3 linked regions of the Homo sapiens genome follow. The protein of the gene in region 1 interacts with the protein of each later gene in a pairwise test. Each region holds a gene or a part of one and is shown on either strand. Other genes may lie near its edges.

Region 1 (6,639 bases):
GTCGTATCTTAATGTTAGACTGTGAGCTCCTTGAAGGCAGAATTCTGATATTATTTATTTGTATGTGCTCAGAAGCCAGCATAGTTCCTGGAATGCTGCCAGGTTTAGCAAAAACCAAAACAAAACATATTTGTTGTTTGTCTGAAATTCAAATTTAACTGGGTGTCCTGTATTTATTTCTTGCAACCCTATTCCTGGCACATAGCTAACCTCAATAAATATTGATGAGTGAGAGGATGAATGAATGACTAGCACAGTACCAACAAATGGAGAAATAAACTGGTAAAAACTTCAATTGACCATATAAAAGACACTCATCTAAATTATGCCTAACAATCACAGAACAACAACACTGTGTCTGGTTAACATACTACCTTTTAAAATCTGACAGTCTGGCTTTGATTGAAGATGCATTTTCTATCCATGCTTTGTCAGCCACTTTTACTCAGTGTCCATGTGGGAAGAATACTAATCTGGTAATGAAGGTGTTTTGTTCCAACAATTTCACATCTTAATTCTGCACATTTCTGATCTCATATGTTTAATTGTTTATTAGTGTGTACCAGTTGTACAAGAAAATTGATTTTGGGTGGTATATGGGTTTCAGTCATTCTGAAGTACAATCATCTCTGTATCTTCCTTTAAAATTGCCAAAATTGTGCTTTTACTCCAGCTGAACCCTGGGGTTTTGGGTAAAGTCATTCACTGTGATTATACCATCAGGGCCAATTCTGTTTGGAAAAAGGTATATCTGCAGTTAGTTCATTGACAGTTAATCTTAAGAAAGACAATATGCAAACAACTCTCATTTCACATTAATTCTGCTGTTGCTCCTTTTTCTCTTTTTTTGTTTTGTTTTGTTTTCTGAGACAGGGTCTGGCTCTGTCATCCAGGCTGGAGTAACTGGTGCAATCTTGGCTCACTGCAACCTCTGCCTCCTGGGCTCAAGCTATTCTCCCAATTAACTGATACAGACACATACCACCACGCCTAGCTAATTTTTGTATTTTTAGTAAAGACAGGGTTTCACCAGATTGCCCAGGCCGGTCTTGAACTCCTGAGCTAAAGCCATCCACCCACCCTAGGGTTACAGGTGTGAGCCGCCATGACCGGCCCTCTTTTTCTTTTAACCTTTGACTGCCTGCTTCTCCTCCTCCTCCTTCTCCACTTCTGTTCCACTGGTCATAGCTAAGCGTGAGTCAGAGTTACTAGGGGGGCTTATAAATACACAGATTCCTGGGCTCTGGCCCTAGAGTTTATGATTCCATAGGTCCAGGGTGTAGCCTGAGATTCTGCATTTCTAACATCTTCTTAGGTGCTGCTGCCGCTACTGCTAGTCTCAGTAGCACTGAAAGAATTGTTTTCCTATATCATTCTTTTCCTTCCTCTTCTCCTTCCCTTTCCCGTTTTCTTTCAGATCATCCATATTTCATGTTTCTCACAATACTTTTCTGTTTCCAGAGCAGTATAATACAATAATCTCACTATCTTGGCCAGCTAGATTTCTTTTCCTGGTATTCTTTCACCTCCACTTGACAAAAGTTAACTTACACTTCCTGTTCCATGTAGTTTAGCATCCTGCTGACATGTGATGCAGAGATCTCCCCATCCACTTTGGCAATATACGTGTAGAGAAACTGGAAGGTGCTGAACGGGATCCGGGGCGACCCACCATTATGGTCACATGATAAGACCTCACACACTATCTTGAGAGTTTTGGTAATAGTCTATAAAAGTTAGATAAAATGAGGAGAAAGTTACTCTTCCAGGCAATATTCCTGAGATCGGTTTAGATACAAGAAAGAAAACAAAAATATTGCTCTTATAAAATGAAGTGGGAACAATTTAAGATTCTAGAAAGCTTGAAATTTTTACATTCAAATGTCACTAATTCATTCTAAAAAATATTAAGTATTGGGTATCTTTATTTCTTTTCTTTCTTTGTTGGAAGACTACTCAAGGAATTAAATTTATACATTCCTAAGTACTTTAAGATATTTGTTACTTTAGCCCGAATAACCTCACTAAAGGAGGGAAGTTGATTTGCATTCTATATAATTAGAATTATTTCTTCTTATTACCCTCCAGTCTTATCTCTAAAGGGCTGAGATAGATGGTCTAGCCTATATAGTCCAGCAGGATACTTGTGGCAATGACACAGTAGAGGAGAAGAAGGTAGGAGAAGGGTAATTTCCCCAGGAAAATGGAGTCCCAGGAAGATACTGGAAAAATGTTCTTAAACATCAAGATAAACGTTCCTCTAAAGCATCTGGGTCCATCTAAATAGAATCAGCTAGTGCTTTATTTCATACTACATAATACTAACCCTTTTATTGCTGGGGAAATATTGGTTGACAATGAGTGCCAGGAATTTTAATAGAAGGGTTACTACAGAAGCAAACCCTCCTTGCAATGAAACTTGAACATTAAAGGAGCATGCTCAGAACTCATCTCATGTCTTTAAATAACCCACCCTTTGAATAAATGTTACAAGCAAAAGAGTTGTGAAATGAAGGTCACCAACAGATCTTGGTGGTTTACTGAAACTGATGATGTACGGATCATCCTGACACTCTTCCAGGGATCAGTGAAAGATCAGTTCTGAGTGGTGACTTAGGGTGAGTGAAAAAGCAGCTGCTGTATCTTCCCACATGATTAGTAGAGGAGACTTGTCCTGCCTTAGCAGTTGATGTCTGCTGTTCTCCTCTCATCCTCTCCCAGAACAGAATGATTGCCTAGATGAGGCTTCTCTAACTGTGGTGTGTGTTACCCAGGAGCGTAAGTCTATGTCAGGAGGTACTGAGGATGTGAATAAACTCTTCCTTGAGTGATAGTTTTACTTGATGGCAAGTAATTTAAACATAATTTGTAATAATTATTAATTTTAATTGAGTTAATATTTCAAATTTGATTCTTTACATTTAATAAGCATTGTTATTTTATAAAACAGAATCTTCAATACATGATGTCAAAAAAAATTGAGTTTGAGGCAGGCCACCTTCCTTTCCTCTCCTCTGCCCCTGGGGGTCCTCTCATGGAAATTGTTGTGAAACACTGCATCTTCTACTCACTTTCACTTAATTCAGAGCAGGTGGGAGGGCAGGCATGGGGCCAACTAGTATATATGAGGCTGTCTGGGAGGATGGTAAATCATGCATGTGAGATGAGGTCAGTGGGAGAATGGTTTGGGGTAGATTTGCAAGCACACTCTGAACATTATAATTTCCACCCACAGCTCACCCTGTTTCTGTAAAAAACAAACAAATGAACAAAAACAACCCTCTGCACCCCTAATGCTTTGTTCTGTTGCCCTCTCCCATGGGGTGCTGGTATGGGCTGAATTGTTCCCCCTAAAGTTCATGCCAAAGCCTTAACCCCAGAACTGGAGAATGTGATTGTATTTGAACATACGACCGTTAAAAAGATAAGTTAAAATGAAGTTAGTAGGGTGTCTTTATAAGAAGAGGAGTTAGGATATAAAGAGAGAGCCACCAGACATGTAGGCACAGAGGAACACAGTTTGAGAAGCTGGCCATTTTTAAGCCAAGGAGAAATGCCTCAGAAGAAAGCAATCCTGCTGACAGCTTGTTCCCAGAACTGTCCTCCAGAACTGAGAGACAACAAATTTCTGTTGTTCAAGCCACCAAGTCATGGCAACAAACTAACATAGCGGCTTTCAACCCTAAACATCATCTTTTATTGATTATTCAAACTACAAACCTTCAAATTCTACTGCCTCATAAGATTTTTAAGTATTTTTAAAGATTTAATAAATGGATGAGTGTATAAATAACTCTTTGGACTGGAGCTATTTGGTAAACTGACATAAACCTAAAGTAAACAGATCTTCATTCTCTTGCACAATATTTTTTTGGGATCCGCTTCACAGACATAATCTTTAAGCATCTTGCGAGCTTCATTTTCAAAGTTAGAGGTGAAAGCCTTGAAATGTAAATCGTTTGCTAACAAATATGTCATTCCTTCCAGTGAACATGATTATTTTCTACATACGTGATCTCTTCCTTTTTTAATAATCAGTTCAGTGGAACAGGAGGTGGCATAGGCCAGTCCAGAGGAAGGAGTGCTGAAGGGAGGAGGAATACAGGTCTGCATGCCATCGCATTCTGAATAATGTGTATTAGACGCAGAGAGCTCAAGATGGAGTAAATGTACCTATTACCTACCAGAGTAAAAATTCCTGTTACTAGATCTTCTACAAGGAACAAACTGGCTTTTCTGAATGGCATAGAGATCTTGTCTTGCTATTGAATTGGCAAAGGAAAGAGAAATTCTGGGCTTGCCTCTAAGGATATATGAATTAACTAGGATGCAAGGTCTCCACCAGATGGTGACCCCTGACTTAGTCTCAGCTATAATAAAATACCTTAGACTGGGTAATTTATAAACAACAGAAATGTATTGCTCACAGTTTTGGAGTCTGGGAAGTCCAAGACCAAGAGGCCAGCAGATTTGCTCTCTGGTGAGGGCCTGTTCCTCATGAATGATGCCTTCTATGTGTCCTCACTTGGTGGAGGGGCAACTTTTATAAGGGCACTAATCCCATTCATGAGGGCTCCACCCTCATGACCCAATCAACTCCCAGAGGCCCTACTTTTAAGGCCATCACCTTGGAAGTTGAGATTTCAATATATGAATTTTGGGAGAACACAAACATTCACACCGTACCACTGGCCAACCCCACATTTAAGATCCCAGAAACAGTCCAGCTCCAGCATGATAGAAATGAATATAAGGGTATTGATTACTGGTTTCATAGGACACCCTTTATTTGCAGATTTAACCTCCAGGCTGACTTTATCTCTAGGGGTTCTTTGACATGGGGATGATGAGGAGCAAAGTCAGATATGTCAAGGCCTCTTAGAATTGGAGGAGCTCACTGTTATTCAGAGGTGGGCCTGAGGGTGTCTCAGAGGAAGCAGAGAAGTGGGGATAGAATCACAGGATGTCAGAGGTAGATGAACCTCATGGAATATTGAATCCCACCTCCTTATTTTAGAAGGGAAGTAGAAAGATTCAATTCACCTCATGGTTTCCCCTCTCCAGTTTGGGAGGCAGGTACATCAGAGGAAACCTAGCATCTACACCGTGGGCTAAGCAGAGGGAGGGTTGGAATCTGACTTTCCAAAGTCACTCTTTGTTACTGTGAGGTATGGGGATAAGGGAAGAACTCAGACACACCACACACTGGTGAGGGTCTGTGAAGTAGACCACCAGAGCCAGGGAGCAGATAGGACAGCCTGGCAGAGAATCAAGGAGGCCCTCGACACCATTGAGAACTGAAATGAGCCAGTTGGGGAGGCATCATCAGCCTTTCACCAGTCCGGGAGAGACGAGACCAAAAACTTAAGCTGCAAGCAGCTAGCGACCAGACAGACAGGCATTACCATGGAGACCAGAGATGCCAGGGAAGACTAAGGGATGTGAGAAACCCTTCACTTGACTGCTCTGTGGTCCTAGAGTCAGCTCTTTCTGCCTACATTCAACTGCCATCTTGGAGAAGAGAGCGTGGTGAGGAAAAACCTGAGATACTGGGAAATTTACCTTTAGGCTGTTTCAGTTACTGCATCAGACTAAAATTTCAGGATTGGATTGAATTTATTTATTTTCTTATTTGACCCTTTGTGGGTGGGGTAGACCAAGAAGATCCAAATTAACTACAGATAAAATTTTAAAGGTATATTTTCCCCCAAAAACGTCTCCAAATGTGGTGTGAAAAAAATCTGTAACCCTATGAGAATTTAATAAAATATGTTCATTTTTTATCTTCCTGTTTGTGATTTTCCCCAGTCCTGACTGACAACTCATAGGCCTCTGCTGCTTACTTTCCTTTCCTCCTCAGAGGATAGTGATTTATTCAGTAATAAATGCTATAAAGGACAATGAAGAAAGTGCCACAAATGTCCTCTTGTTTACTTCTCTCTAAAGAAATGATTATGATGAAGGCTGTAGGGGAATCTATAGGAAATTTGGACTACAATATTTCCACTAAATTTTCTCAGAAACAAACCTGTCAAATATGTATTCCAAGCATATTTGAGAAGAACAAGATTATGTTTAGATATGCTGAATGATTCAGACTACCTTTTCATACCATTTGGTTTTGGCAGAGGCAATTATTTTCTCAATAATTTTCAAACTTGTATGTATCTCAGGGATTCTTTTAAAAAAACACGTTTTTGATTCATTTTAAGTTATTTTAACAATGTTTAGCAATGTAAGTCCACATATAAGATACCCAAGCTTTAAATATCTATACATATAAGCTGATTTCAGCATCTTTGGCTTCAAAACAGTAAAATTGCATTTCCAATATCAAACAAGTCAAATTTGGAAAAGGCATAAATCTGTATGAACATCCTGCATCCATGGAGATGTCATGACTAAATTCAGAAATAGCCTCATCTCTCTTTTTTTTTGCTTTCTTATGTCTGAGTTCTGCATCCAATTCTGTTTATTACATAGTTTTCGATAAGATTGTACCCCTTTTAAACAGTGTCTATTGATATATATTCTAGGTGTCTGGAAGTCTTTTTCTACAGTCGGCTCTTGGTTGTCTCTGGGAATATGAATGGAAGGAGCGGAGTGAAAATAAATCTGAGGGCAATATTCATAAATAAT
Region 2 (7,029 bases), on another chromosome or scaffold:
AACAGCCTACTTCCCAGGCTCGGTGGTGTGCTACAGGGCCCTGGACCCAGGTTATGGGGCAGGACAGCAGTGGCTGGCTGTGGGGTGGGGCCAGGCTGGAGCCACTGCAGATGTCCCGAGGCCTTCAGAAGCTCTGCGTTCCCATTCTCTTCCCTGCCCAGACACCCGCAGACAGGCAGCCCCTCCTGAGCGACTGTAACTGTCATCCCTTTCTGAGTCTGGAGTGACTCAGGCAAGGACCTGATGAGCTGCCATCTTCCCCATTTCAGTGGAAAGCTTGATGCATCTTCCCCATTTCAATGGAAAGCTCAGAAGGTTAAGGAAGGGACGCCAAAGAAGAGGGGCTGTTAGAAGCACTTTTGCAGGCACAAATGCTGAAGGAAGGAGCGTCACTAAAACAGAAAGGCACAGCCCAACCCTTGGGTGAGGACCTTCCCCTTCCCGCATCCCCCATTCTCTGATCTGCTGACCCCTGCGCGCTTCAGGACTGTGATCACCCGGCCTCTGCTTGGAAACCACAGGCAGCACAGCCAGGCCCAGCCCTGCCTGTGACAGCATCACCGGTCCAGTGAAGGCAGCCCTTGGCCTGCACGTGGGGCCTTCCCAGGTGACCCTCGGCTCCTTCCCCAAGCCCTCACCGCCCAGGCTTGCCCCTGTTCCCCAACATTCTGCACAGGCAGCATCAGTGAGGGATGAAAGCTTTCCCAGGCCCAGCACAGGCCTCCTGGGTCCTGTTCCCCACTTTCGTGAGCCCCACAGCCCACCTCGGCCAGGCCCATCCTCTCCGGGAAGCCAGCAGCAGCCTCCTCACTGGCCTCAAGTCCTCCTTCTGCTCAGCAGCCAGAGAGGCTGCTTTAGATCAAACCACGTCTTGTCAGTCTCCTGCTTAAAGCCCTCCACTACCTTTCATCAGAAGTGGAATGAAATCCACACTCCTGTATAATCCGCCCTCTTCCCAGCTGACCTCAGCCTCATACTCTGCCACACGCACGCTGGCCTCCCTAGCTGCACCACACATACACCTGTCCTGGCGCCTTCACCCTGGCTGCTATCTGTGTCTCACTGGCAGCCTGGGCCTGGCGTGTCAGCTCTCTCCAAGGTGGGCGTCAGGCATCTGTGCCTTGAGAGCCCCCTGGGAGATTCTGAGGTGGGCTCAGCTCTGCAGCTCTGCTGGTTATTCCAGCCCCATCCAGCTGGTCACCCCACATCCTTCCAAAGCTCGCTGACCCCTGCTTGTCCCTTCCAGGGTCAGGGCACCCCTGCTCTGAGCCCTACCTTTTCCTGTTCACTTTCCTTTCTTCCCCACGGTAGGGGAGCAACGTGAGCTATAGAATTCCACAGGCGTGGGGAGTTGGGACTCCCCTTTCCCACTTCCTGGGCTTCCAGCCCCAGTGCTCCCTGGGGATGCCACAGCTCTCTGTAGGGTGGCCAGGTATGGGGAGGTCCACAAGCAGAGCCAAGACAACCTCCACCCAAGCCCACGGCCCCTCCGAGCGAGACTCACCTGCACCACCTTATAGAGGAAAGAAAAGACCAGCGACACGCACGCGTTCTTCTTGGATGTGGCAACCACTGCATGGCGGCCACAGTTAAGGAGCATTCAGAGGCTGGGGCTGCTGCCTGGAAGATCCTGGTTCATGGAGGGACCCCCTAACCCTCACAACCCTCAGAGCCTTCCCTATCCCCACTCCCAGCCGTTTACTTGGCCCATGGTGGGCTACAAAGCTCCTGGTCCAAGCTAGACCTGGGACACAGGAGTCACCAGCCAGATGCGCTCCCAGGCCCCAGGGAGCACTCACTGAGATGGAGAATCACAGGGATGGCAGGTGGCACAGGGCACCTGTCCCGGCGGCTGGGTGAAGGGCTGCCTTGAGCAGGGAGGGAGTGAGGCTCATTCCAGGAGCAGAAAGCAGGACACACTGGCCCTGCTCCTCCAAAGCTGACCTCATCATGACCCTGCTGAGGTCCAGGGTCCCCCGGCCAGACTCTGTGGCAAGCAGCCAGGGCCAATTCTGGCTTCAGCCCTTCCTGGCTTTGGAAACACAAGCCTTGGCCCATGAAATAAACCTTTCTAGAGAAACCTTGATATTTCTCTCCTGTGTAATGGAGGCCTGTGAATGAACTCACCAAGGCAATGTAGGTGAGATGTCTGGCACAGATGTTCCCTTCTGCCACAGGAGCCAGCCCCTGCCTCCCAGGGTCAGTGTGTGCTGGGCGCTTCCTATTCCTTTTTCCCTAATGGGTCCCCGGGCCGCCAGAGAAGGCTGGTTCTTCCTCTGTAGGCCCATGCACTGCACCCTGGACATCCCTGTTCATGGCACATCTGTGCTGCCTGGCTCGTCTGCCCAGGAGTGAGCTCTAGGAGGGAGGGTGGGGGCTGTATCCTCTCCCTTCCCGCCTCACCCCAGCACAGCACAGGGGCCCAGGAAAGGGACGCTGGCCCAGTCAAACGAGTGCTGGCCTCCCTCCTGCTGCCTGGCAATGTGCCCTCCCCAGATGCTTTATAAGCAGGGGCAGTGGGGGCCTCTCACCTTCTCATGGGTGCCTCTCAGCCACGGCCTTGCTGAGCACTGTCCCGGCTGGGGGTGAAACGATGTCCACTAAGCCAGAGGGGTGAGCCCTCCCTGTCTCTTCCCTAGATGCCCAGGTGTGAAATGTGGGGGCCCAACCAGAAACTGATCTGATGGCTCCTGCTGAGCTCAGACCACAGCCACCTCTCCCTCTCCCAATACCTGGGCGGCTTCAGAGGACTGTCAGTTCCCTGGGTTAAAAGCCACCTAGGCCGGGCACGGTGGCTCACGACTGTAATCCCAGCATTTTGGGAGGCTGAGGCGGGCGGATCACGAGGTCAGGAGATCGAGACCATCCTGGCTAACATGGTGAAACCCTGTCTCTACTAAAAAAATACAAAAAAATTAGCTGGGCGTGGTGGCGGGCGCCTGTAGTCCCAGCTACTCGGGAGGCTGAGGCAGGAGAATAGCGCGAACCCGGGAGGCGGAGCTTGCAGTGAGCCCAGATGGCGCCACTGCACTCCAGCCTGGGCGACAGAGCGAGACTCTGTCTCAAAAAAAAAAAAAAAGCCACCTAAGATCATCTTCAGAGCTATTCTCAGGGCCTTCCAGAGCCAGGTGAAATCTACACAGAGGCACACCACAGGGAGCCCTGGGCCAGCACGGCCCACATGGGAATGTGCACACCGGCCACCAGGAACAAATCTTCCTACAATGCAGATTCTGACGGGGCAGGGCTGGGTGGAGCCTGGGATTCTGCATTTCCAAAGGGCTCCCAGCGGATATTCTGGCCCGTTGGCCACACTGTACTGGCAAGGCCCCAAGTGTCTCCAAGAACACAGGAAAGGGCACAGAGCCCATGCCTGCTGGGAGCAATATGCACAAGTCAGTTCAACTGACCCGAATGGTCCTGCAGTGAGGGGTCGTTGTTCCCACTGAACTGTGGGAAGGTGAGGGATCCCCCATGGCTGCTGGAGCTGGGGCTCAAACGGGCTGTGAGTGGCAAAGCAGGCCCTTCCGCAGTAGTGTGGGTACTGAGATGGGCTTGCGGGTCTGCCCAAAGCTGTGGGGTGGCCAGTTAGACCTCCTGGATAGAAACTGGCTTGGCCAAGTCTCCCCATGGGCCCAAGGACAGGAAGGGTGGGGGGCTCTGAGATCTGGGCGGGGCTGTACCCCACCACCCCTCCGTGGTCCAGGCCACTTCCCCTCCCACCTGCACGATGGCCCCAGCCTACTCCCCACCTACCCATGTCCTCTCCTGTCCCCACAGTCTTGCCCCACTCAGCAGCCAGAAACCTCCAGAAGACACACATCTAAAAGCCTCCAGAGACTTCCTGTCACATTTCAGATGATGTTCTTTGAGACCCCAGACCCCGCTGACCACTCCAGCCTCGCTGCCCTACACGCCCCCTCTCCAGCCACCCCGAGTGCAGCTGTTGGAATGAGGCTCTTCCCTGCAGAGCCTTCACCCACGCCTAGTGCCTGCCCACCCCTCCAGCTGGCAGAAGCCAGGCCTCCCTGCAGGCTTCCTCCAGGGTGTCATTTCCCTTCCTGGGCCCCTGGGCTGAAGAGGTTCAAGTCACACCTGCTCCTCTCCCCACACCCATCACACATGTCATCGTGCATTGTCTGCCTGTCTCCGCAGGCAGCAGGGAGCTCCAGGAGGGCATGGCTGTGTCCAATGCTTGCGCTGTGCACAAACCAGCCCTGCTTGCAGGCGTGTGGATATGCACACACACCAACACCCACACAGGAGTCCCCTGGGAGCACCCCCAGCAAAGGGATACGATACAGGTTGTTGTGTTTGATCCACATGAAACGGACCCCCCCGTGGGCCAGGATGGGCGACAGCATCCCCTCCTCCTCCTTCTCCATCAGGATGGGCATGAAGTGCTCCACCTCTGACATGTCCACGTCGCCACGGTAGTTCCGGCAGATGAGCACCTGGGGTGGGGAAGGAAGAGAAAAGATGCTTGCATTTTCAGTTCTACAATCTGGGGGCTTGGGGCAGGGGGTGAGATGCACCACCCTGCTTCGCTCTGGGGACTCCGGTCATGGCCACTATCCGCAAAAGAGCAGGACTTGAGGCCGTTCTGATCTCCATCCCCCAGGGAATTCCTGGAGAAGAGCATCTCCCAGTGTGAATGCCCACAGGGGCCACTGCAGTTCTTCGCAGGGTGAGGGTAGAGGCGAACTCTGCAGCAAAGGTCCAGGACTGAATCACCCAGAGACATCAGGTTAAGCAATGCCTCACAAGCTCTCAATGCAGACCTTCTCAGAGCCTTTGCCGGGCCAACGCACCTTGCTCTCCCGCCTGTGTCAGGGCGCCCACTCCCGCTGAAGGTTCGTATTTACTGAAGTCCACAGGTGGCCTGAAGGGAGAAGCCCTCTTCCTGGTCTCTCTCTTTCATAGCCTGTGGGTCAGGATATACAGCATCCAGAACCCCTGTCCACTGCTGATAGGAATGGAAAATGGGACAACTACTTTGGTGTAGTCTGGCAGTTTCTCAAAAAGTGAAACCCAGAGTTACCATACGATCCAGTCATTCCTCTCTCTGGTATTTACCCAAGAGAAATGAAACCACATGTCTGCACAAACACTAGCACGAGAATCTTAACAGCAGCTTTAATTGAAACAGACCCAGACTAGAAACAATGCCAATGTCCTTCAGCAGGTGAACTAGAAACAAACTGTATCCGTGCACACCATGAGAAGCATGCCTCAGCAACGGAAGGGATCGGACTCCCGATACACAGGCGCATCAGAATCACTGTGCTGGCTGAGAGAAACCAGACAAACGAGAGCTCATCCTGCATGACTGCACGTGTATAAAATCCTAGAAAATGGTGATGAAAAACACATCGGTGGGTGCCTAGGGATGGGGCTAGACAGCAAAGGGGTGTGAAGAAGCTTTCGGGGGCGATGGAATGTGTGGTTATGGCTTCCCACATGACTGAGCTCATCAAATTGTACACTTTAGATAAGTGCAGGTTATTAATGTAAATTATACCTCATTAAAGAATAAAAAGGAGGTCGGAAGTTTTGCTAGCCTGGGCATGGCTGCGGTTGGAGATGCTGCCTGGAGCAGCTGCAGCTCTTGGGGCCTGCAGGACAGCCAGCTGCAGGACTCAGCAACATGCTGAGAAGGCCATTGCGGCGCTGACCATCCTGGGAACCACCTGCCTCAGAACTTGGCATTTCATCACACGCTGCCTTTATTCTCTCAAGGCGAGACTGGGGGTGGTGCGGGGTGGCACCTTCCTTTCCTAGTGTCTGCTTCGTGGCCTGTGGAACTGATTGGAGGGAGGCAGGTGATGACGTGTTGAGGGAACAGCCCCTCCCCCTGCTGTCACTCTTGACCCCCCAGGTCCTTCCTCACAAAGGGTGACAGGGCTCTTCCTACACAGAAGCCAGACGGGGTCTCTCCCCCACTGCTGAACTGCCACTTACCCCAGCCTCCCCGGCACTGAGAACAAAGCCCAAGCCCGTCCCCATGGCTCCCAAGGACCAGCGTGGTCTGGCTCCTCACAGCCCCTCTGACGCCTCTCTGCCTGCGCTGCCCTGGTTCACTCTGCTCCAGCCTGGCCCCTTAGCTGGTCTCTGAGTGATCCACATCTGTTCCCACCTCGGGCCTTTGCCCTGACCTGGCTCTTCTCATTTCTCAAGCCTCAGCTCAAATAACACCTCCTCTAGGAAGTCCTCCCAGCTGGGCGCGGTGGCTCACGCCTGTAATCCCAGCACTTTGGGAGGCTGAGGCAGGCGGATCATCTGAAGTCAGGAGTTTGAGACCAGCCTGACCAATATGGTGAAACCCTGTCTCTACTAAAAATACAAAATTAGCCAGGCGTGGTGGTGCATGCCTGTAGTCCCAGCTACTTGGGAGGCTGAGGCAGGAGAATCACTTGAACCTGGGAGGCAGAGGTTGCAGTGAGCCGAGATTGTGCCATTGCACTCCAGCTTGGCTGACAGAACGTAACTCCATCTCAAAAAAAAAAAAAAAAAAAAAAAAAAAAGAAATCCTCCCTGCTTGCTCTGGCTGAGATCATGTCCCATCCCTCTGAACCCTGACCCCTGCTTTATCCCTATCACCTGGTGCATTAAACATTTATTTCTATCCTCCTTTACTGTCTGACATCCCCTGAGAACAGCAACTACTCCTGTCTCATTCACAGCTGTTTTCCAGCACCCAGAAAGGGGCCTGGACCATAGTAGGTGCTCAGTAAACATTTGTGGAGTGAAAACAGGGGTGAGGAGACAAAGGAGGCGAGGATAACGTCCAGGTCTCTTGTGCAGATGGCTGAATGGGTGATGGCATCACTGAAATGGAAAGAGAGCAGGTACAGGGAGTGCATTTAGAAGAATGCTGAATTTATGGTGGCGGCGGGACCTCTCTGGTGTCTCAGAGGCCACTAGATCTCCAGAGAAATGCTGTGAACAAAATTGAGAGTCACTGGCCCATGGACATGAGTCAAAGCCCACCTGGGAAGAGTGACAGCATGGGGAGGCACGCGTAGGCCT
Region 3 (7,029 bases), on another chromosome or scaffold:
GAAGTAATCTAAATTGTGGACTCAGGAGCAGATAGAGGGAAGTTGGAGCAAGCATTTCATTATCAAGAGAGAGAGAAGGTTAGGATGAAAGAGATGAGCAGAGGCAAATCTTAAGTGTTGACACCATGATTGAAAAGGTTAACCCATACACATTATATATCAACCTGGATAGCAGAGAGTTTCTAATGGAAAGTCTGCACTGATGGAGGTTTACGGGAGTTTCAATACACTGAGCATGATGTCTTCTTAGATATACAATCAAATCCTCTTAACCCTTTTGATGACTCATATCTGAAGATATGATTAAAGTACAAAAGAGTTCTTCATATAATTTCAAGGACACAATGCATTTAAACTCCAGTCATGAATTGTATCTTTTTTTTTTTTATGATGAACCTAGTAATCTGATAAAATGTGTGTAGAACAGAATTGTATTTGCTAGAGGTGTAAGTCAATATTTTGATTAAATCTGGGGCATCCTCTGCGGTAGGCAGAAGTTTGTTGTCCCACAAAAAGGATTTTTCCCAGATTATGTAAATCACTCAGAAAATCTGAGGCTTGAGCCTAAGAATTCAGCCTGTCAAATGCATTCCAAAGGGATGCCCAGAGTCTGGGGGTGTTTTTCTTTCTTTTTCTTTGGTTTAGGATTATTCACTGGTGTCAACCGTTATTCTTTGTTTCAGGTTATTTGGAAATAGCGGTGCTTGCAGCGCTTGCGGACAGTCGATTCCTGCGAGTGAACTCGTCATGAGGGCGCAAGGCAATGTGTATCATCTTAAGGTAGTATTTGCATCTCTCTTTTTTTTTTAAAAAAAAAATCATACCTTTCCTACCTACATGGGGGCAAAGCATTTCTCCTTGGTATGAACTGTTTTCTCAAGCTGCAGACACTTGAAGGAATGATTGAAATTGTAGCATGGCAGTGATGGTTACACATCCACATGCACAGACCACGCTTCCCCTATGCCACAGACAGAAGTACACATGTATTTGGATTTGTCCCCATTTAGCCTGGTCCAGTTGATAGCAATTTGGCTTACTGTTTTCTGGAGATCTGTCAAAGGAAGAAAAAACGCTAAACCCTAAGTGTCTCTGTACTTGACAGATACCTGCTTAATAACAGGTTATAAACTTGTGACCAAAAAAAGACTTAATTTTTACCTTGTTTTCAGTGGGTTTGTTTTTCCCTTTCAGTGTTTTACATGCTCTACCTGCCGGAATCGCCTGGTCCCGGGAGATCGGTTTCACTACATCAATGGCAGTTTATTTTGTGAACATGATAGACCTACAGCTCTCATCAATGGCCATTTGAATTCACTTCAGAGCAATCCACTACTGCCAGACCAGAAGGTGAATACCCAGCAATTACTAATAAGCTTTATTAGAGCAAGTTGGAAGGTTCAACCTCTTAACCTAGCAAGAGAGTTTTCTTGGGTGGTTGTATTTTTGCATGCCCTTTTAAAGAAATGTAGATTACTAGTTGTACATAGAGTGTTCAGAAGTAGGATAGCTGATTAAATTGTGAATCCTTTCTAGTTAAAAAAAAAATCCTGACTTTGTTATATCTGTAGCTTCACTCACGTTGAACATAAGATTATCACATGCAAAAGCAAACAAAATGTAAAGCTTCCATATAACTGGTTATTTATTCCATTTGACAATTTTGAAATTCAGAAACATGATGTGATAGGTTATTGTGGAAGAAAAATTAGAACATTTATGGTAGGAAAAGAGAATAAAGATCTTTGTTATGAAAGAATGATTTCTGCGTTAGGAATAGCAATCTGGACACCTGCCTTCCAAACCCAATTTACAATTCATTTACTTTTTAGAAGAGTAATTTTACAAAACATTCTGTAACTTCATAAGAGGGCATTTTTGTTCATTGGCGGTACCATAACATTTGAATAAGTTATGGCTTTTAAAACCAAGTTCTTGTTCTTGCTAACCCGCTTAGTGCCATTAATAGTGCCATTAGAAATTATGTATCTTGATTCTTGATCCACAACTTGAAAATCCTTGTACCAGAATTAAAAATTAGGAAATTATACAAGTATACAAATCATGTAGTATTAGAAGATATTCCAGAGGGAAAATTGGTGATCAACAGTTGTCCAGCACCCCCAGTACTGGATAGTTTTAGATCTATTTTAATCTCCTTAATAAGTCCTATAGCTATGCAAGTGAGTGCATTTTGATAACTGCTGTGCCTAATTTGTAACAATTACTGTCAACCTTCAGTTAAGAGACTGTTCATTCCACACCGGCCCAGAAAAGAGTGAAATGTATGACTCGTGTGCATAATTTTATTCACATCATATTTCATACTGATTATGTATTGATGACATTGATTCATTTACTCTTTACAGCGCCACTTGCATGGATATTAAATCTTATTGACCACAGATGAATTTTAATTTCAGATTGGTGATAGATTTTTCCATCAGCTCTGATAGTATGTTTGACTTTTTCATCATTAACCCAGGCAATCACACAGCACTGAGTTATTGCATTGAAACAAAAAGTGCACACTTCACTTGGTAATTCTTTATGGATTTACAATAGGAACTTCATTAATGTCTGTTGTAAGGATCACAAAAAAAACAACATTTATCTGCAAATAGGAATTTAGCAAGCTTCAAAAATCTCGGGGAAAAAAATAGACTTTTTTGTCTTCTGTAATGCATTTTCTTAGTGCGGTGGTGGAGGTGGGGGTTTGACAAATATTTGAAAACTTTTAACCATTAAAATTATGCTGCCATATTTTGATGCTTATATTTGCCCTTTTCCCTTGCTCAAGTTTATGAGGTAATTTTAAATGTATGTTCTGTTTCTTAGTGTTAATTACATGACATTATGTGCACTTTAATTTACTAATATGGGGAGCTACATAGAATAACCATTTTAAGAATAAAAGTTGAACTTTTTAATTGCAAACTAACCAGTCACTGCTGATGAGGTATTTCAAGCTTCTTCAAGGAGTGCCAAGACATATAAATGCTTAAAGATTTTTGTGATTTGGATTCTAATGAAGTGAATCTGCAGGGCAGAGTTGAGAACAATGAATGAGCAACATAAATATTTGGAGATACCTATTCAGAATAGAGGTAAAGCTGTTTGTAGTTACACTTGGTAGCAAAAAAGAAAAAATATGCTAGAAATAAAATGGTAGACCTTCTCTCCACTCCTTCTGATGTAAAAGCTTAATTTTTCCCCGAGTTAGAGCTTCACTTTGTTGCTGGTTTTATACCATTTCTTTCTCTGACTTAGCAAAGTACTATACAAAAAAATGATTGTTGCAGTTCACCAGCATGCATGGTGAGAATGAAAGGATGTAGAGATGAGATGGAAAATGTTGCTAGATTGTGAAGCACTGAATACAGGCAATAGCAGTGTTAGGTAGGGACCAAGTATAAAGCACACCTAAGAAATATGAGCAGGATTTCATACCATCTTTTATAGTATAAGATGGCATAAATTTAGAGGTGTTAGGGAGGAGAACTGCAGAAAAACCAGGTTTACCTGTTGATGAGATTACATGTCTTATGCCTTTCATTGAAATCTGTTTTCCACACCTTTTCCAGGATGGCAGTGGTAGGGTATTCATTTTGGAACACTATATTTTAGGCAATGAATAAGAACCTATTAGTGTATGTTTTCTTAATGTTGGAGGCCAAAAAAGAGACAGGTGGCCTTCAAAAATTAATAGCTCTTAAAAGGCATAAGGAAATACAACTTATGGAAATGTTCTTGTCAGACATTGGTGAGAAGCTGTGTTTTGGGGGTGCTGTTAATTAAGAACATTTCCCTGTTGGCGTAAGTGTCTCACATTTTTGCCCTTGGTGCCCAGCTCACCATGAGCACGGTCAATTCACAAGGTAGTTTTTATAAATAAAGGTTTTGGGCAAGCTGAACGTGGTCCAGAGAGATATTAATGAGAGGGCAAGGGGGAAGAGTTAATGAAAACATACTTCCTGGTGGAACATAAACTGCTTTTTGGAACTGGAGAGGCTTTAAAATTATTTTCCCAAAACCCTGTGGCGTTTCTTTTCTGGAGGCAATGAGATGGGGAGAAATGACAAATGGCTTCGTTTTATTATTTTCTCCTCTCTCGTTCTCCATATTTTTGGTAGGGAAAATTGGACATTTATTTTGGCCATTTTCCTTCTATTCGCAGAATCAATTACATTTTTGGTGTATTATGCGTGGTAAATATACTCAAGGATCCTCTGGCTTAAAAGCAATGAGTTGATTATTCGAACATCCCTTCTTTAAAGGCAGTTAATTGCATGGAAAACATAGGCCCCCATTGTCTGGTCCCTTTAAACTTTTATTCTGAGATTTGTTCCCAGGGTCTGGGCTGTGTAGTGTAGTTGTTGTTCTGCATCATTGGCTGTTGTATATTCCAAGAAAAATAATTTTAAGCTTTTAAATCATACAGTGATTGAAATCTTGCATTTCAGATGGACTGAAATCTCAGGCCACTAGTGTTCAAGGATCTACAACATTTTATAACCTATATCACTTAAAGGAGGCTTGGCTAGCTTTGGGAGAATGCTGCCTTCTAGAGGGTTATGTAAATCAGGAATTGTGGCTAATTTTTTCTTTTGTAGATTGCTGCCTGTTCTGGAATTTTTTTCTTCCACTCAAAAGTGTGATGGTGCCATCTAGAATTACCTGTGCTTTTCAGTTTTCAGTGGAACAGGAGTTAGATCACATCTCTTTAGTTGGAGGAAAATTTAGTGAGTGTTCTAGTCTACATGTCACTTCGCAGTTCCCCCATAGTTACATAATTGGTGTTGTGTGTGTCCATCGTAGAAGACATTTGATGCTCATTTATTAAATATGCTTGCTGGCTGCTGCTGCATCTTTGTTCTGGACAGACAAATTACCTTTCTCACACTGAGCTTCCACTCTGGGGAATTAAGCCTTCACCACTTTAATTAGCTTGGAAGTAGGGGGTTGCAGTTCCTAATAGACTACAGGCTTTTTGTAAGTTAGGGAAAGGGTGAAACGAGAACTTCCTGGGAGGCTCAAAATGTCATTTAAAAACCATAACAACCTAATATGTATTATTTCATTTTGGTAATTGCAAACAGATTGTATTTGACAAGTGTGTGGATTTCCATTTCTGACTTAGACATTGAAGCCACCCTTGCATTGAACTATGTTCTTTTATCTATCACAGGTCATTAACACATTGCATGTATTGAATCACATATTTGTGTAGCTATTAAGTGACATAGCAGATAAGAAATAGTGAAAAATATGTGAATATTTGTACATAGAAATTTTCATATAGACACACACCTATAGGTAGTACCAATATGGGTGAATATTTTTCACATGGGGATATCGGAATAATAATGATAACTGCCAGTATTTGTTGAACTTTTATTAAGGGCCAAGCACTGTTGAAAGTGCTCCCATATGTATTATGTAATTATCATAACAGTGTCATTATCCCTTCTTTAAAGATGAGGAAACTGAGACACAAGCAGTTTAAGCAACATTCCAAAAGGTTACACGGTTAAGCATATGAACCCAAAACTTCCTAGGTAGGAACTTGTCTTGGAATGTCCCCGCTATTTAAAAAATTCAAGATCCCACTGCTGGGCAAGATGTTACATTCCTTTTGGAAAGACACTTGCTCTTAACAGAGTTAAGCAATTAATTGTAGTACTTTACACCAGAAACTTTCTGAGCGTCCATTTACTGTCTCATTTTCTTTGCTAGTAAAACTGCAGAAAATGTTATGCTTTAGTTCTTCACTGCCAGAGTAAGTAGCATAGAAAGCCTCTATCAAGTCACAGTTGGAAAGTAATCTAATAAAAGAAGATTAGTGAATGTGGGGAAGACAAAAGCAGTCATGTTTGAGTTTAATATCTCTCAAATTTAGCATTTTAGCTAAGATGCCCGTTTTTATTTCTTGCAGGTCTGCTAAAAGGTCAGAGTAATGCAGAATGCGTGCCTTCATCTCAGATTTGTTCATCACAGGTGGATCCCATGTGTCTTCAGTAGACAAGTCACCTTTGTAGCTAGCACCAGTGCCAGCTCCATGCCATTGCACCTTCTTTAGTCTTGATTGCCCTTCCCGCATTTATTGGTGTATTAAAATGACTGAATATGAACATTAAGGACTCCATGAACCTGGGCTAATGGGAGACTGTAGAGAAAATGAAAAAAGATCCACCAGAGGACATCTTGGGGAGGGGGAGGGAGCTGGGGGGGAGGGAAATGACTAATGAAGCTAATTAAAAGAAGCATTCAAATCTGCTTTCTACCCTCATTAACAATTAGCAGGGCACTGGCCAGAGTTTGTACCCTGTGTTTTACCTTAACAACATTCTATTTGCTCTTTGTATATTTAAGTGTTGTAAGGAAACGTGTTTCAATCAAAACTGACCATGAGATAAAGGAAAGAGATGTGGCTTTTGTGATATTCTATCACAAACACTTATTGTATCTCTGTAAAATACAATGTATGTATGCATGTAAGTGTTTTTGTCCTAATGTTGCTACTCCCATGGCAAAGAAAAAAAAAAGAATGAAAAAAAGAAAAAAATTTGGAAAAAAAAATCAGGCTCATAGCAGCTACTGTGTAGAAAATTCCCCCTACTTCTAATTTGCTGAATGAAGAAAAAAAAAAATCTTTTATTTGTGATATTTTCAGAGACATTTGCTCTAGTATGGTGTATTTAAATAATAAAAACTTAAAAGAAAAAATATTTAATGGTGTTTGGGTTTAAACACTGCTTTTTCTCTTCTGTATTTTGAAGAAATTTAGTTTTTATTGTTGTTGAATAACAAGCTCACTTTAAATTTGAAGGAGTTGAGGGAGGTGGAGTGTATATTTATTTAGCTCTGGGCCAGTAAGGTATTCTTCAAATTACTTAACCACGCCATTATTGGCAGGGGTACAAAGTAGTTTCTAACAGGGTCCTTTCTATAAGTCAAGAATATTCTGTTAACAGCATTTCGTTACACTTCTATATCACAGTAAGTCTTTTGTGTTTATAAATACTTGAG

The links. Proteins that work in one complex are often made in the same cells at the same time.
Region 2: the proteins of ROPN1 (region 1) and AP1M1 interact in binary tests that used the Homo sapiens proteins (3 or more experiments, as listed by UniProt).
Region 3: the proteins of ROPN1 (region 1) and LMO4 interact in binary tests that used the Homo sapiens proteins (3 or more experiments, as listed by UniProt).

Annotation. Positions count from the first base shown.
Region 1 is NC_000003.12:123,968,491-123,975,129, forward strand, and holds the end of ROPN1 (ropporin-1A), read right to left. Parts: intron 1,728-6,639; coding exon 1,552-1,727; intron 732-1,551; coding exon 665-731; 3' UTR 525-664; downstream 1-524. UniProt on the Homo sapiens protein: Important for male fertility. With ROPN1L, involved in fibrous sheath integrity and sperm motility, plays a role in PKA-dependent signaling processes required for spermatozoa capacitation.
Region 2 is NC_000019.10:16,200,884-16,207,912, reverse strand, and holds part of AP1M1 (AP-1 complex subunit mu-1), read right to left. Parts: intron 4,455-7,029; coding exon 4,298-4,454; intron 1,573-4,297; coding exon 1,505-1,572; intron 1-1,504. UniProt on the Homo sapiens protein: Subunit of clathrin-associated adaptor protein complex 1 that plays a role in protein sorting in the trans-Golgi network (TGN) and endosomes.
Region 3 is NC_000001.11:87,338,853-87,345,881, forward strand, and holds part of LMO4 (LIM domain transcription factor LMO4), read left to right. Parts: intron 1-683; coding exon 684-780; intron 781-1,194; coding exon 1,195-1,350; intron 1,351-5,935; coding exon 5,936-5,944; 3' UTR 5,945-7,029. UniProt on the Homo sapiens protein: Transcription cofactor. Plays a role in establishing motor neuron identity, in concert with MNX1, acting, at least in part, to disrupt LDB1-LHX3 complexes thereby negatively modulating interneuron genes in motor neurons.